2 separate regions of the Homo sapiens genome follow, and region 2 is linked to region 1. A link means that fine-mapping ties the variant in region 1 to the expression of a gene that starts in the linked region. Tissue or cell type: whole blood. Region 1 holds a variant in brackets; the other region holds the start of a gene. All regions are shown on one strand. Distances are between the middles of the regions.

The links. PIP is the estimated chance that this variant, and not a neighbour inherited with it, causes the effect.
Region 2: it holds the start of SPTLC2, and the variant in region 1 is fine-mapped to the expression of SPTLC2 in whole blood (INTERVAL, PIP above 0.99).

What each region holds. Positions count from the first base shown.
Region 1 is chr14:77,560,172-77,568,276 of GRCh38, reverse strand. It overlaps SPTLC2 (serine palmitoyltransferase long chain base subunit 2), which reads left to right. Exons shown (of 12, transcript NM_004863.4): 6 at 5,788-5,881. Among named protein-coding and RNA genes, the nearest start is that of SPTLC2, 52 kb to the left of the region's middle. The variant TGTGAATATTTTTA/A (reference allele first, on the strand shown) is at 3,441.
Region 2 is chr14:77,612,461-77,620,565 of GRCh38, reverse strand. It overlaps SPTLC2 (serine palmitoyltransferase long chain base subunit 2), which reads left to right and starts at 3,929. Exons shown (of 12, transcript NM_004863.4): 1 at 3,929-4,118. The coding sequence starts at 3,987. RefSeq lists silencers at 3,503-3,562, 3,893-3,942, 4,083-4,282 and enhancers at 3,602-4,134, 4,463-4,672.

The sequences.
Region 1 (8,105 bases):
ACAAAGATATCTGGAAAACCTTTGAATATTTGAAAATTAAACAATATATTTCTAAATAACCCATGGGCCAAAGAAGAAAAAACAGGGGAAAATAAACATATTTTGAACTAAATGGAAATGTAACCTATTATAGTTTGTTGGATGAAGCTAAAGCAATGCTCAGATGGAAATGTATAGCATTAAACGTTTATACAGGTTGAGCATTCCTAATCCCAAAATCTGAAATCTAAAATGTTTCAAACTCGTAAATATTTTGAGTGTCATCATGACAGCTCAAAGAAAATGCTTAGGGGTGCTAAACCAGTAAATATAATGCAAATAATCCAAAATCCATAAAAATCTGAACTCTGAAACACATCTGGTCCCAAGCATTTTGAATAAGGAATATTCAACCTGTATTAGAAAAAAAGTAAAGCAGCCAGACTCCATCTTAAAAAAAAAAAGTAAAGCTTGTAGCTTAAAAAATTAGAAAAAGAAAAACAAATTAAACCCAAACTAAGCAGAAGGAAGAATATAATGATGATAAATGCAAAAATTAATGAATTAGAAAATAGACAATAGGAAAATTAGTGAAACCAAAGCTGATTCTTTGAGAAAATGAATATAGTTGATAAATCTGTGGCCAGAATGGTCAGGATAAGAAGAGATAAGGTGCATATTACCAGTAACAGGAATGAGAGAGGGGGACATCACTACACGTCCTATGGACATTAAAGGATAATAAGGGAGTATTAAGAACAACTTCATGCCAAAATATTCAACAACTTAGATAAAATACACAAAATTCCTTGTAAGACATAAATGTATGGTTCTTTGACTTCACGTTATAATACGTTGCTGTCCTGCATTTTGAAGTACAAGCCTGAGATTCTTATTTGTTAGAATTTTTAACACTAGAGGATTAGAAAATCTCATCTTGCTCTTCTCTCTGTATGCTTACAAGCTCTATCAGAGGATTATCTAGAATTAGACGTTTTCTACACAGACCTGGAAGATACAACCATAAGGATTTATATTCCAGGGCCGGGCGCAGTGGCTCACGCCTGTAATCCCAGCACTTTGGGAGGCTGAGACGGGTGGAGATCGAGACCATCCTGGCTAACAGGATGAAACCTTGTCTCTACTAAAAATACAACAAATTAGCCGGGCGTGGTGGCGGGTGCCTGTAGTCCCAGCTACTCTGGAGGCTGAGGCAGGAGAATGGCGTGAACCCGGGAGGCGGAGCTGGCAGTGAGCCGAGATCGGGCCACTGCACTCCAGCCTGGGGGACAGAGCGAGACTCCGTCTCAAAAAAAAAAGATTTATATTCCAAATCAAACTATAATTGAAATATTATTAAATATTGTTTAATCTGTTAAAGACAGTAACTTATCCAGTTTTAATGATCCTTTGAATCTGATACTGAATTTCCATGTGAGGTGGTTAATTGCTCAGTTTGATGGCAGGGTGGGGCAGTATATTGATTAAGAGCATAGGTTCTGGAAGCAGACACTTGTCTTATTTAATAATTATTTTGTGGCCGGGCGCGGTGGCTCACGCCTGTAATCCCAGGACTTTGGGAGGCCGAGGCGGGTGGAACACGAGGTCAGGAGATCGAGACCATCCTGGCTAACACGGTGAAACCCCGTCTCTACTAAAAATATAAAAATTAGGCGTAGTGGCAGGCGCCTGTGGTCCCAGCTACTCGGGAGGCTGAGGCAGGAGAATGGCGTGAACCCGGGAGGCGGAGCTTGCAGTGAGCCGAGATTGCGCCGATGCACTCCAGCCTGGGCAATAATTAGTATTGCTATTATTATTTTGTTACTGTGCTTGTGACCTTGAGCAAGATTCTAAACTCCTGAACAAGAGTGTCCTCATATGTAAAGTGGGAGTGATAATAGTGTCTGCTACATAGAATTATTGTGAGGATTAATAGTAATAATGCTTTTAAATCTTTTAACATGATACCTGAAACATTAAGCGCTTAGATGTTAACTGCTAGTATGAATACCTTTTATTTTTGAACCAAAGATTTAATAAAGCTTAAGAATAAGTTCTAAGGGAAAAAGACAGATTGATACATTGAAATGCTGAATAAGGCTGTCTAAAAAAGGCTGTCTAAAAAGAGTTCCTTTTTGCCAGAAAAAAAGAACATAATGCTTTTGCAGGTTTGCCAGAAAAATATTTAGCTGGAAAGAGAAGAAAATAAAATTTTGTGCGGAGGGGAAGGGAAGGGAGGGTTCTTTTTAAGATAGAGTTGAATGCCAAGAGTGGTAAGTAAAGAATTTGACTTGCTGAAGAGAAATCTGACTTCTCTTTATTTTCTCCCCCAGTTTCGCTTTTTCAATTTTAACACTTTTTTGAAACTTTAATTTAGACTTACAAAAAGAGTTACAAAAGAGTACAGAGAGTTCCTGTATACCATTCATTCAGCTTCCCTTTATGTTAACATCTTGCATAACAGTGGAACTGTTTCTTACAGCTAAGAAATTAACTGTGACACAATACTATAACTAAAGTACAGGACGTATTTGGTTTTCACCAGTTTTTCCGCTTCAGGATCCAGGTGAGGATCCACATTGTCTTTAGCTGTTGTAGCTCCTCAGTCTCCTCCAATCTGGGATAGTTCCTGTTTTTCTTTGTCTTTCATGACCTTAATACTTCTGAAGGGTACTGGTCCCTTATTTTGTAGAATGTCTCCAATTTGGGTCTGTCTGTTGTGTTGTTATGGTTTGATTGAGTCCGTGCGTTATTGAGAAAGCTACCACAGAAGTGATACCATTCTCAGTGAATCATGCGAGAGACTATGTGGTTTTGATACATATTACTGATGATGTAAATCTTAATCGCTTGTCTCAGGTGTCAGCGGGGATTTTCTACTACCAACTTACTGCTTTTCTCTTTGTAATCACCATATATTGTGGCAGAGATACTTTGGGACTGTATATAGCATTTTGGATTAAACTTTCACCCACTAACTTTAGTATGCATCTGTGATCTTGCCTGTGGCAGTTATTACCTTGGTGTTCTTTTTTTTTTTTTTTTTTTTTTTTTTGAGATGGAGTTTTGCTCTTGTTGCCCTGGCTGGAGTGCAGTGGCGCCATCTCAGCTCATTGCAACCTCTGCTTCCTGGGTTCAAGCAATTCTCCTGCCTCAGCCTCCTGAGTAGCTGGGATTACAGGCACCCACCACCATGCCCGGCTAATTTTTTGTATTTCTTAGTAGAGATGGGGTTTCACCACGTTGGCCAGGCTGGTCTCAAACTCCTGACCTCAGGTGATCCAGCCACCTCAGCCTCCCAAAGTGCTGGGATTACAGGCGTGAGCCACCGCACCCGGCTTACCTTGGTGTTCTAATGGTGATTTTTCTATTTTTCTCATTCTTTCTATACTTACTAATTAGAATTTTTGTGTAAGGAAGAGTTCTTGCTTCTCCCTTATTTATTTCTGTCGTTGTGGGTT[TGTGAATATTTTTA/A]TTATTTGGCTTATAATTCAACACAATTGCTTCTTTTTTGTTGCTCGAGTTTTAGTTTTGGCCATTGGGAGCTGCTTCAGGTGGGTACCTGTGTCCTTTGAATATATAATAACTTTTTTTTTTTAAAGCATTCTTATACTTTCTGGCATGATAAAATGCTCCAGGATCATCTTATATTTTCCCTATCCCAGTTTTGGAATTAACCAGTTCTCCAAGAAGTGCTGGTTCTTTTTTTTGGAGAATGATATTTAGAAACCAAGGTCTGGGAACTAGGTGTGTTTATTGCTGAAGGAGTATCACTGCTTCTCACCTCTCAGTGACTAGAGCTAGAAAATGTATGTATATATGCGAACTCATGCATACACACACATCTGTGTGTGTGTGTGTGTGTGTGTGTGTGTGTGTGTGTGTGTGTGTGTGTGTATGCATGCATAAAGATTTGAAAGCCAGGAGTCTATTGATACTGCCGGCTCTAGTCTTCTCCTTTTCCTTATTCTCCTTCTTCTCCTTCTCCTCCTTCTCCTCCTCTTCCTCCTTTTCCTCCTCTTCCTCCTCTTCCTCCTCCTCCTCCTTTTTTTTTTTTTTTTCCCCCCAGACAGAGTCTCCCTCTGTTGCCCAGGCTGGAGTGCAGCAGCACAATTTCGGCTCACTGCCTCACTGCCTCAGCCTTTTGTGTAGCAGAGATTTGAGGCGCCTGCCACCACGCCCAGCTAATTTTTTTGTGTTTTCTTTTTAGTAGAGATGGGGTTTTGCCATGTTGGCCAGGCTGGTCTCGAACTCCTGACCTCAAGTGATCCACCCACCTTGGCCTCCCAAATTGCCAGGATTACAGGCATGAGCCACCATGCCTGGCCACTTCATTTTTAATCTGTACATTTTTAACCAGGTAGCTTTTTTATCTTAATAAATACTATGTGCATAATAAAAATTTCAAACACAACTACTGTTACAAGTTTCTTAAGTATTCCTTTAAGAATATTCTGTAATAAATAAGCATGTATATATATAGTTGACCCTTGAACAACATGGTTTGAACCATGCAGGTCCACTTACACGTGGATTTTTTTCAACCAAATATGGAGCAGAAATACAGTTTTCAGCCAGGCACAGTGTCTCACACCTGTAATCTTGGCACTTCGGGACGCTGAGGCGGGTGGATCACCTGAGGTCAGGGGTTCAAGACCAGCCTGGCCAACATGGTGAAACCCCATCTCTACTAAAAATACAAATATTAGCTGGGCCTGGTGGTGGGCTCCTGTAATCCCAGCTAGCTGGGACGCTGAGGCAGGAGAATCGCTTGAATCTGGGAGGCAGAGGTTGCAAGTGAACCAAGATCGCACCACTGCACTCCAGCAACAAGAGCAAGACTCCATCTCACACACACACATACACACAATATAGTATTCATGGAACACAAAACCCAAGTATATGGAGGGCCTGCAGGTCCCACAGGGCCAACTGCAGGACATGAGCATGGATGGATTTGGATAAATGTGAGGGTGAGGCAGTTCTGGAACCAAGTCCTCCTGTAGACTGAGGGATGACTGTGTGTCTTTGTATCTTCTCTCTTCTTTTTATTCTCGTGGGAGCATGCTATATACTTTCTGCACCCTTTTCATCTAATTGGATATTATGAGGCTATTTTTGACAGAGAAAAACCTTTTTCTGAGTTGAGATCTGACAGGTTGAAGGGCCCCCTGAGAGATGGAAGAGTAAGAACTGCAGTGAAAAAAAAAACCAAACCGAGATCTTCAACCTTTTCTTAGTTGCCTTAGCAGAAACTGATGTTTGTGTGTTAAAGCAAAGCTTGTTTGGGGATTTTTAAGACAAAACTGAAGCCTACAGTCCATGCTATGTGGGGAAAAAGTTAATAAGTAGGATCTTCCCTGGACTCTGGATATGAGTAGTAGTGAGAGAATGCACCATTTCCACAGACATGACCCCATCAGCTGCCATTTCCCACAGATAAACAGAACATGATACTAAAACTACATGGAATTCTCTCACGTAAAGAAACCAAAACGTTTTAGAGACGGATGTGTCATGTTTTAGATACAAATAAAGACCTGTTGCCATATATCTGAGTATTTACATCAGTCATGGGACTGAAGATATTAAATTAAAAGGCTAGAATTTTGCATCTACTTTTAAGGTGTCTTTACAAAAAACAAATGATCGTGTACACCTTTTTCCTCTTCTTAAAATTGATCACTGTGCTGTTGTGCACAATTTCCTTAATAAGATACAGCTATTAGTGTTTGTGGCATTTTGTGATTTGTGTAACTAACCCTTTCCCCTCCAGCTTCTTACCTTTCTGTTCCTGTGATGTTGCAGGGTTGCCTGATTCTGAGTGATGAACTGAATCATGCATCACTGGTTCTGGGAGCCAGACTGTCAGGAGCAACCATTAGAATCTTCAAACACAACAGTGAGTTTGCTGAAGAATTCACTGCTGGCCTTGGTTTTGCTATTCTTTCGATCCATGGTGGGAGTTAACATTAGTTATATTAGCACTTGAAAGTATAAATGAAGACAAAGTAGCAACATTTAAAATGTTCTTCCGGTCCAGTCTTTTAAAATTAGAGGTTGATGGAAGCCTCTTGTACAAATATAATACTATCCTTTTATTTGACCATGAAGTTTTCCATCCCATTTCCTTGTTTACAGATCCGTTACTCAAATACATTTACTCGATGACTATAGTGTATCTTGCCATAAGACTAACAGTATTTAAGTGAATAAATCAAGATCTCTGACTGGTTAACGAAGAGACTTAATAGATAAGCCAGTCCTTACAATATAGTGGACAGGTGCTGAAGTACAGCTATGAATAGATGCTGTGGGAGCACAGAGGAGGGTGGCCCTGAGCCAGACCTTTCCTCCCTCAGTGGAAATATCTTTGTGTATTATTAAAATGATTATTTAGAATAAAAATGCGTAACTTTCATAGTTAAAACACACACATAGGCAGAAAAGGTGACCAAACTGTATGTTAATAGCATCTTTTCCCAAAATGTGTACAGGCACAGACAAAAGTTTGGAAGAATGTATACCAAAATGTTAGGTGTGTACCCGTGGATGGAAGGATCATAGATGATAACATCATTTTTGTTTTTGTTTTTGTTTTTGTCTTGTCTAAAATGTTTTACAGTGAGAAATGAGATCTTATTAAATATCACTATGTAACCTGTTATTTTCTTTTTTTTTTTTTTGAGGCTAGAGTCTCGCTCTGTCACCCAGGCTGGAGTGCAGTGGCTCAATCTTGGCTCACTGCAACCTCTGCCTCCCGAGTTCAAGCGATTCTCCTGCCTCAGCCTCCCGAGTAGCTGGGATTACAGGAGCGCGCCACCACACCTGACTAATTTTTAGTATTTTTAGTAGGGACGGAGTTTCACTGTGTTGGCCAGACTGGTCTTGAACTCCCGACTTCAGTTGATCCTCCCGCCTTGGCCTCCCAAAGTGCTGGGATTACAGGTGTGAGCCATCATGCCTGGCCTCTTTTTACAATACACGGTGATTGTTGTTTGTCATTACATGTAACTCTATCTCATTCTTAAATACCAGTGTGGCAGTTAGTGCCTGGGTGTGCCCTCATTTAATTGCCCCCTCAATTGGACATCGGGGCTGTTTCTAAATTTTTCTACTGGGAACAGCACTACAGTTACAGTTTTGTACCATCATCTGGTTAGTGCCTTAGGATAAATTTCTAGCAGTCTCAGAATGCATGGTTAAAAGAGTATACATTTTTAATACTTTTCCAAATTGCCTCTAAGCATTATATGAACTTTTTTTTTTTCACTTTTATTTTAGGTTCAGGGGTACATGTACAGGTTTGTTATATAGGTAAATTGCATGTCTCGGGGGTTTGTGTACAGATTATTTCGCCACCCAGGTAATCAGCATAGTACCTGATAGGTAGGTAGTTTTTCGAACCTTACCCTCCTCAACCTCCCCTGCCTCACTCTCAAGTAGACCCCAGTGTCTGTTGTTCCCTTAGTCGTGTCTGTATGTACTCAGTGTTTAGCTCCCACTTACAAGTGAGAATATGTGGTATTTGGTTTTCTGTTCCTGTATTAGTTTGCTTAGGGTAATGGCTTCTAGCTGCATCCATGTTGCTGCAAAGGACATGATCTCATTCTTTCTTATGGCTACATAGTATTCCATGGTGTATATGTACATATATATATATATATTTTTATTTTTATTTTTGAGACAGAGTCTTGCTCTGTCTCCCAGGCTGGCATGCATTGGCATGAACTCAGCTCACTGCAACCTCTACCTCCCCAGCTCAACCGATCCTCCCATCTCAGCCACCCTAGTAGCTGGGACTACAGATGTGTTCCACCACGCCCGGCCAAGTTTTTTGTTTTTTGTTTTTTGTGTTTTCTTTTTGTATTTTTTGTAAAGATGGGGTTTCACCATGTTGCCCAGGCTGGTCTTGAACTCCTGGGCTCAAGCAATCCACCCACCTTGGCCTCCCAGTACTGGGATTATAGGCATAAGCCACCACGCCTGGCCCACATTTTTTTAATCCAGTCTACTGTTGATGGACATTTAGATTGATCCTATGTCTTTGCTGTTGTGAATAGTGCTACAATGAACATACACATGCTTGCATCTTGTATGAATTTTTCCTCAACAACATGAGATTG
Region 2 (8,105 bases), 52 kb before region 1:
TTTGAGACGGAGTTTTGCTCTTATTGCCCAGGCTGGAGTGCAATGGCGCGATCTCGGCTCACTGCAACCTCCACCTCGCGGGTTCAAGCGATTCTCCTGCCTCAGCCTCCCGCCCGCCACCACGCTGGATAATATTTTTGTATTTTTAGTAGAGATGGGGGTTTCACCATGTTCGCCAGTCTGGTCTCGAGCTCCTGACCTCAGGTGATCCGACCCCCTCGGCCTCCCAAAGTGCTGGGATTATAGGTGTGAGCCACTGCACCCGCCAGCCTCCTTCTTTAACATCCATTCTAAGCTATTGCTATTTGTCCTTTTCACTCCCGGGTTCTATCTCCTTGTAGTGAACACTGTTAGGGTTGTTCCTCCCTTCTCTGCTATGATTCTTCCTTGTCTATAACTGATTCCTCCCCTCCAGCAGTTTGACCTTGTGCTCTGGCCATTGCGATTGGTCAGATTTACCCATCCTCACCATAAGCTAGGCCAATCAGATTTCTTTTTCCTGAGAGTGTAGAAGTTTGACCTCATGAATATGAAAGTTGTAGGTTGTTGAGAGCTAAGCACCAGAAGTGGTTTGGTTAGGAGGAAGGAAGGTCTATAATTTTCTGCTGCTGAGGTTTAGGATTTTCCTGAGTGCCAACACTTCCCTGTCTTCAGGAGAGTTCCAATAAATTTACCTTTCTTGAATAAGTTTTTTAAAATTGGCTTATGTTATCTGCAACCAAAGAACCTCAATTAACACAGTCTCCATGTGATAGAAGGTTCCTTGGAGACAAGGCCAAAATTTTTTTTTTTTTTTTTTTTTGAGACAGAGTCTCTCTCTGTCACCCAGGCTAAAGTGCAGTGGCACAATCTCGGCTCACTGTAACCTCTGCCTCCCAAGTTCAAGCAAGTCTTGTGCCTCAGCCTCCAAGTAGCTGAGATTACAGGCATGTGCCACTACGCCCGGCTAATTTTTGTATTTTCTGGAGAGACGGGGTTTCACCATGTTGGTCAGGCTGGTCTCGAACTCCTGGCCTCACGTGATCCATCTACCTCGGCCTCCCAAAGTGCTGAGATTACAAGTGTGAGCCACCATGTCCAGCCAAGGCCAAATTTTAATTCATTTATCCATTTATGCATTCATCAAACATTTATTGAGCATTTGCTATGTGACAGACACGTGGTAGGTACTGGGAACCCAAAGATAAATTAGACAATCCCCTCAACTCACCAAGCTTGTTGCCTAATTGTAAGTATAAATGTATTCAATCAATCATTCATTCACTTAATAAGTACTTCATTTATCCAATGAATAATTACCAACACTCATTTAATATTATGTAACAGGTCTTGGCACTAAATGCTTTTGTTAATTCTCCAACTCTATGAGGTATATCCCATTTTACAGAAGAAGTACCTGAGTCATAGAGAGGTTAGGCAGCTTTGCCTAAATCATAAGGATTCTAGGTGCTGAAACCGGTCTTCAATTATGGTATATCTGACTGCAGAGCTCTTGCTTCTAAGCATTGTGTAACCTCCCTCTCAAAGAATCTCAAAGCAGTGTGATACATGCTTACACAGGTGTGTATAAAGCTCACAGAGGAGAAAGCAACTAATTTTGTGGGGAGGTTGGGGTTCAAAACAGGCTTCACAGTTGAAGTGGTTTGAGCAATCTTGAAGGAAGAGAAGGGTTGTCTTCCTGGTGCCTAGCACAGAACTTTGCATATGAACACTGTAAAATGATGATTAAGCGGCTTATGTTTCTGGAAGGAGTTGTTTTCCTGTTTACATGGAGTCTGGGGTGTTTCCTACTGCCTACTGCAGCATCATTTTTGTGATTTAGCAATGGCATGTGAAGTAATCAGATCATCTGTATATCACTGATGCTCACAGAAGCCTGTAAGGTAAGTAGTACAGGTACACACTTTGTAAGATGAGTGAGGAAACCAGGGCTGAGTTTGCATTACTTGTCCAAGACTATACATAGTGAGTAAGTGGCGGAACAAGACAAGGGGCCAGCCCCCTGAGGAGGGATCGGCTAACAGGACTCCTCAAATCTAGCCAGACTCCTTTACTCCTCTTAGCCTGCAGGTGAGGCTTTGATCTTTCTAGACTCGACACCCGAGTTTCTGAAGGTTTCCTCAGAACACCCTCCCCATCCTTCTCAGTTCCAGCTCTCCAAGTCCCGCTCATCTTCCAAGATCTGTCTCATTGCACATCTTCCTCGCAAGCCTTCTCCAGAGTCATTCAGCTCACTCCCTAAGCTTCAGTTAAATCCCTTAGCCCTGCTTCCATCCAGATTCCTGCCCTGAAAACTTTCTACCTGGTTAGACTCATCACTGCCATTCAGCTTCCCTCATCAGAACTCCTGTTGCCTAATCTCTCCAGCCTTAGGTTGGTCTTTAACTATTGTTTTCTTTCTATGTGTATATCTTGTCTCTCACTGAAATGTAAGCTCCATGAAGCACAGCCACATGTTTCCTTTTTAGCCTTATACATACAGATGTATATTCACTTTGGGATCAATAGTGTTTGTCAACTCAAATAGGATGTGTGGGATGAATGATCCCACCTTCTGTTAGATTATTCAGCTCCTAAGTCATGCAAAACCAATACCTTGTGGACCTCCTTTCTAAAGCTCCTGCAGGGTGGGGAAAGAATGCACGGATTCTCATAGGTGCATTTAGCAATTACTAGTAACCAACACTTAATGAATGCTTACTAATTGCTAGGTCCTGTACAAAATACATTACATACATAAACTTATTCAATCTTCACGACAACTATTATTGTCCCCACTGAACAGATGAAGACACATAGAGGTCACTCAGCTAGTAAGTGGCGCAGCTAGGATTTAAAACCCAGACCGACTCCAGAGTCCATACTCTCAATTATGATACTAAATTCTTTATGGATAACAGAAAGTCTCTAATTGTAATGTAGATCAATTTCCTTGCTTTCTAACCCCATGGGAAGATGGAACTAAAAGGGTGAGAAAATAATATTTATTATACTCCTACTATAAGCCTAGTATTATAAGAGGTGCATAATGGGTTAATGATATAATTCTTGCTGTAAGTCTATGAAGCAGGAAGTATTAACTCCATTTTAAAGAATTTGGCTTCTAAAGTGGTTAAACACAGTGCTCAAGTTTTAGCTTCCAGTTATTGGCAGAGTTGGAATTAGACCAGGTTTTCTAACTTTGAAGGAAAGACTTAATTTAAAGGAGACTGTATAGAAAACCCTGCCAAGGGCAAATGTGAAGGGCACGTGAAAAGGCATCTGAATTATTACTTATAATAATTCAGAAATAGTGAATGTGTGGCGCATATTGAAGAATGATGAGAGATTGTCAAAAAATCTATTCTATAAACACTCACAGAGGAATCAGCTAATTAAATAAGCGAGCTGCCTGTCTTGGGCTAGGACATAAACTCCAAAACTTCCCACGAGGCAAGGGCAAAGAGGGCGCCACCTGTCCTGGAGAACCTGGGAACCCGCTCTAGAGACTTCGGCTCAGCCCCTTTTATTTCCTCACACTCTAATTGGCTACTTTTCCCTGGGCTCCGCCTCCTCCTCGGTCTGGACCATTAAACAGGCAAGCCCTACCCCGGACCTGGATGCGGCCTCCAATCAGGTGCCAGGCCCTGGAGTCCCTCTAGAGAAGCCCCCTCTCCACCGGCGAGGCGCTTTGCTCTCGTCCGTGATTGGCCAGGCAGCAGCATGGGGTCCGCCTCCTTCTCTTCCAGATTGGTCAGCGGTCCTCAGGACCACATCCCTCTCGGCAGGTCCCCGCCGCTTTTTCCCTTCGCTGCGTGGCCTTGGCCGAGACCGGTCCTCTGCGGAGAGGGCCCCGCCCTCTGTGAAGGCCCGCCCGGGAATTGGCGGCGGCGCTGCAGCCATTTCCGGTTTCGGGGAGGTGGGTGGGGTGCGGAGCGGGACTTGGAGCAGCCGCCGCCGCTGCCACCGCCTACAGAGCCTGCCTTGCGCCTGGTGCTGCCAGGAAGATGCGGCCGGAGCCCGGAGGCTGCTGCTGCCGCCGCACGGTGCGGGCGAATGGCTGCGTGGCGAACGGGGAAGTACGGAACGGGTACGTGAGGAGCAGCGCTGCAGCCGCAGCCGCAGCCGCCGCCGGCCAGGTACGAGGGGCCCGCGCGGCGGGGCCGGGGTGGCGGTGTGGACTGGCGGAGGGGCGGCCGGGCGGGGCGAGGTCTCCGGGCCATCCGCTGGGCAATCCGCGGGGCGGGCGCCGTTCGCAGGTGTGGGCGGCAGTGTCCGGCCGCTGGCCCGACCTCCACGAGCCTGGAGGCTCAAGGACGGCTCGGGGGCTCCCCACCTCTCCGCGCCTGGAGGTCTTACTCCCGGAGCTCTGGGTTCTGCTCAGAGCTCCGGGTACTTTTCTCTGCCCCATTCTGCCAGAAGTGTGTGCTGTCCCCAGGGGAAGCGATGAGGGGCCCTTCGGACTCCAGTGGGAGCCGCCCAAGGGCTCCGGAGGGTCCCTTCTCAAACCCCTGAGGTTATTGCTTCCTTTTAAAGTCCTGCAGTCGTCCAAAGAAAACCACCCATGGGGTCCTTAAGAAGCAAAGAAAATTAGGCGGTGGTGTCAGATGGAAACACACCCAGCCTCTCCCAACCACATTCTGGACTACCACGTTCAGTCCCCAACCAGGACATTGGTCCATAGATCTGGCAGGGAATCCAAGCTGGTCCCTCGAAAGCATCATTCTCTTAACTCTGCCGGTGGTGAGACTCTACCCCAGGCTCCAGGTTGGATTAGGTGGCCCCTTCGACCCTTTCCTGAACACGAGTGCTATCACACAAGGGGATTGTTTAGCCTGGTGGTGACTTGCGATGACTCTATACTAATTAACCATGCTGAATCATCAACCAAGTTCAGGCAGTTCTAAAATATTTTGAAAAGTTCTAAATTCAAGACAATGCTTATTATCAACCTTACAGTGGTCTGGACTGACAGATATTCTGTTGAAATGTGTTTTTAAAGATGAGCTGGTTAAAAAGATGCAAGATCGGTGTTCCTGGAAGAGAGTGTTGCGATAATTTTGCAGTTGACTTTAATACGTTTAAGTCTTGTACAGATATTAAGGAACGCTTAGAAAGTACTCTGTTTCCCTTTAGCGGGAGTGTGACTGTTGCAGTTTGATAGGATGGTGATCTTAATTTGGCTTTAACATAACTACTCCCCAGATGAGTAGTTATGATGGATAGGTCTGTTACTGTTTGCTGCGAAGCAGAAAATAAAGCATTTTTCCAGGTCATGTTGAGATATTGAGACTGAGTTGAGGGGAAAAATAAGTAAAGCAGACTTGACCTCCCCTGAAGTTGTAAGGTGTCAAAGCGAAGTAATACACAGATCAAAAGATTTGTTTTCACTTTTAAAGAAATAATTGTGTGAGGGAGGAAGTGATAACAGTCAGCTCATTATAAGCAGTGGAATAGTTTGTCGTTTTCCTAGCAATGTAAACGACTTATAAGACAAAATTGTTGTGGTATAGAATGTAATAGGGAAATTTAACGGGTAGGAGTTAGAAAATACATTTGCAGGTGAATTTCATTGAGGTATGATTTTTTTTTTGTTTTTGTTTTTGTTTTTTTTTTTCAGACAGTTTTGCTCTTGTCACCCAGGCTGGAGTGCAATGGCGCGATCTCGGCTCACTGCAGCCTCCACCCCCTGGGTTCAAGCGATTCTCCTGCCCCAGCCTCCCGAGTAGCTGGGATTACAGGCGCCCGTCATCACGCCCGGCTAAATTTTGTATTTTTATTAGAGATGGGGTTTCACCATGTTGGCCAGGTTGGTCTCGAACTCCTGACCTCAGGTGATTGGCCTGCCTTGGCCTCCAAAAGTGCTGGGATTACAGGCGCACCAGGCCGAGGTATGATTTTTTTTGTTTTTTTGGTTTTTTTTGAGATGGAGTCTCGCTCTGTCGCCCAGGCTGGAGTGCAGTGGCGCGATCTCGGCTCACTGCAAGCTCTACCTCCCAGGTTCACGCCATTCTCCTGCCTCAGCCTCCCAAGTAGCTGGGCCTACAGGCACCCGCCACCACGCCCGGCTAATTTTTTGTATTTTTAGTAGATACGGGGTTTCACTGTGTTAGCCAGGATGGTCTTGATTTCCTGACCTCGTGATCCGCCTGCCTCGGCCTCCCAGAGTGCTGGGATTACGGGTGTGAGCCACTGCACCTGGCCGGTATGATTTTTTAAAATGAAAAAGGAAGTCAAGAGAAAGGTGTTCACACTTCAGCGTTGCTTTGTGTTCAAATGCTTCTTTCAATCCCTATGAGTTATGTTCAGATTTAGTAGGAAATCAAGGACCTTTCTCCCATAATCTCTAACAATTTAGCATTTATAGAATGATATTTCTTCAGAGCTTGCCAACTAATAAGGTGAAGAAATATCAAGGTACTAACATGACATTTTAAAATCTGTATGAATAACATTTGGTTGACTTTTGGGGACATGTTTTGTAAAAGTTTCACTCAAGGCACATTGGTGGCATTTGGAAGAACGGTCTGTTGGAATGCTGTGAGGGCTGCAGTATCCCTTCTAGAAAACTACTTCTCACCAGTATTTTTAATACAGACTTCAGATCTGGAGCTTTCTACACTCTCAGATGGAGGAATATTGTCTGTGAATATTTTTCTTTCTTATACAAAAGAGAGATCTTGGTAACTACATGAGAGCAATACAATATCTTAACATTTTTTAAAAGTTGTTTTCATTTTTAATTAAAGCGATGTGCTTGTGCTCCAACCTCTACCTATCTTTCCCCTCTTTCTGGGGGGGAAATGTTGCCAACTGTGCCATCAAAAATACGCATACAGCTGTGTGTCATGCTTTTACTAAAATATGAATTTAGAGTATAACATTGTTGAGATGTAAATTCTTTTCCTCACATCTCCCACCATGTCTTTTAATGAACAGGAGAGAAGTCAGAAACGTCTAGGATCACTTTACACTCTCAAGAGTATGTTTCTGTGCTTGAAGAGATGAATGAATGTGTATAGTAAAAGAACAACTCTTGGATTTGGGTTTAGAATTTGATGAGCTAGATGCTGTGTTAAGGAGTTATGAAACAATCACACATTGCTGTTTAGTGATGACAGTAGACACACAGTTTTCACAATAGTAACAGTTGAACAATAGAGCAGTAATTTTTCCTCTCTGCTATTCAGATGAGTGGGAGGAGCACAAACCTTTATTTGAGGTAAGGTGTGGCAATTTGCCCGAGGGAAACTTTTACATTAGCATTGGAAAGAACCTTTGGGAGTTTATTTAATTCAGTCCTTTATCTCTTTGTAGGAGTTTATTAAAATCAGTCTTGATAGAAAATTCTGTACTGTTTTTAAAGATCTCCAGGGGATTTGCAGCAAGTTTTTCTCTATAGCAAATTGGATTATTATTCCATGATCTTAATTACCAAATTTCTTCCTGTGGATTTAACATTTGATGAAATAAATGCCATGTTTTGGTTGCACCTGAAATATAGTAGTTTGTTTGTGTGTTTGTTTTTAAAACTTCACGTTAACAGCTCTTTTTAAAAGAGCTTCCATTTCTTTATAGAAGTTTTGAGATTTAGGTTTTCCTTTTACTTTCCTGAGTTAGTTAATAAGTGTGAAAGAAAAAAAGTTATCTACCTTTGAGACAGTTTTGACCCTAACTTTTTTCCCTTTGGGTGTAGTTTTAATGAGATATTAGAAGGATGAGAGCTCTCTGGCTTACAGAATAAAAAATTCTATCTCAAGGAATTGGGGCAAAAGTTGTGTTCTTATGTTAAATAATAAGCAAAGTAGAAAGAACAAAGTGTTAGTCTTGCTTCTTAGGAGGAGGCAAATAAATAACTAATAAAGCTGGTTTACTAAATAGCTACTAGCTTTTGTTTCCACTGAGGGAGAAACAGTAACTGGGGGTTTATATGTGATAGTTAAGGAAAAGGAGACGATAGTTATGAGGCTAGAACAGTAGAAATAGTTAGAATAGTCATATATCTATTTAGATTTAGCAGATCCTGATAAGATACCTCAGATACCTGAAGGCTTTTCAGAAATAATGTAATTTACAACTTGGAGGACAAGATTTTCATTTCAGTTTTCACTCTAAGGGGAAGCATA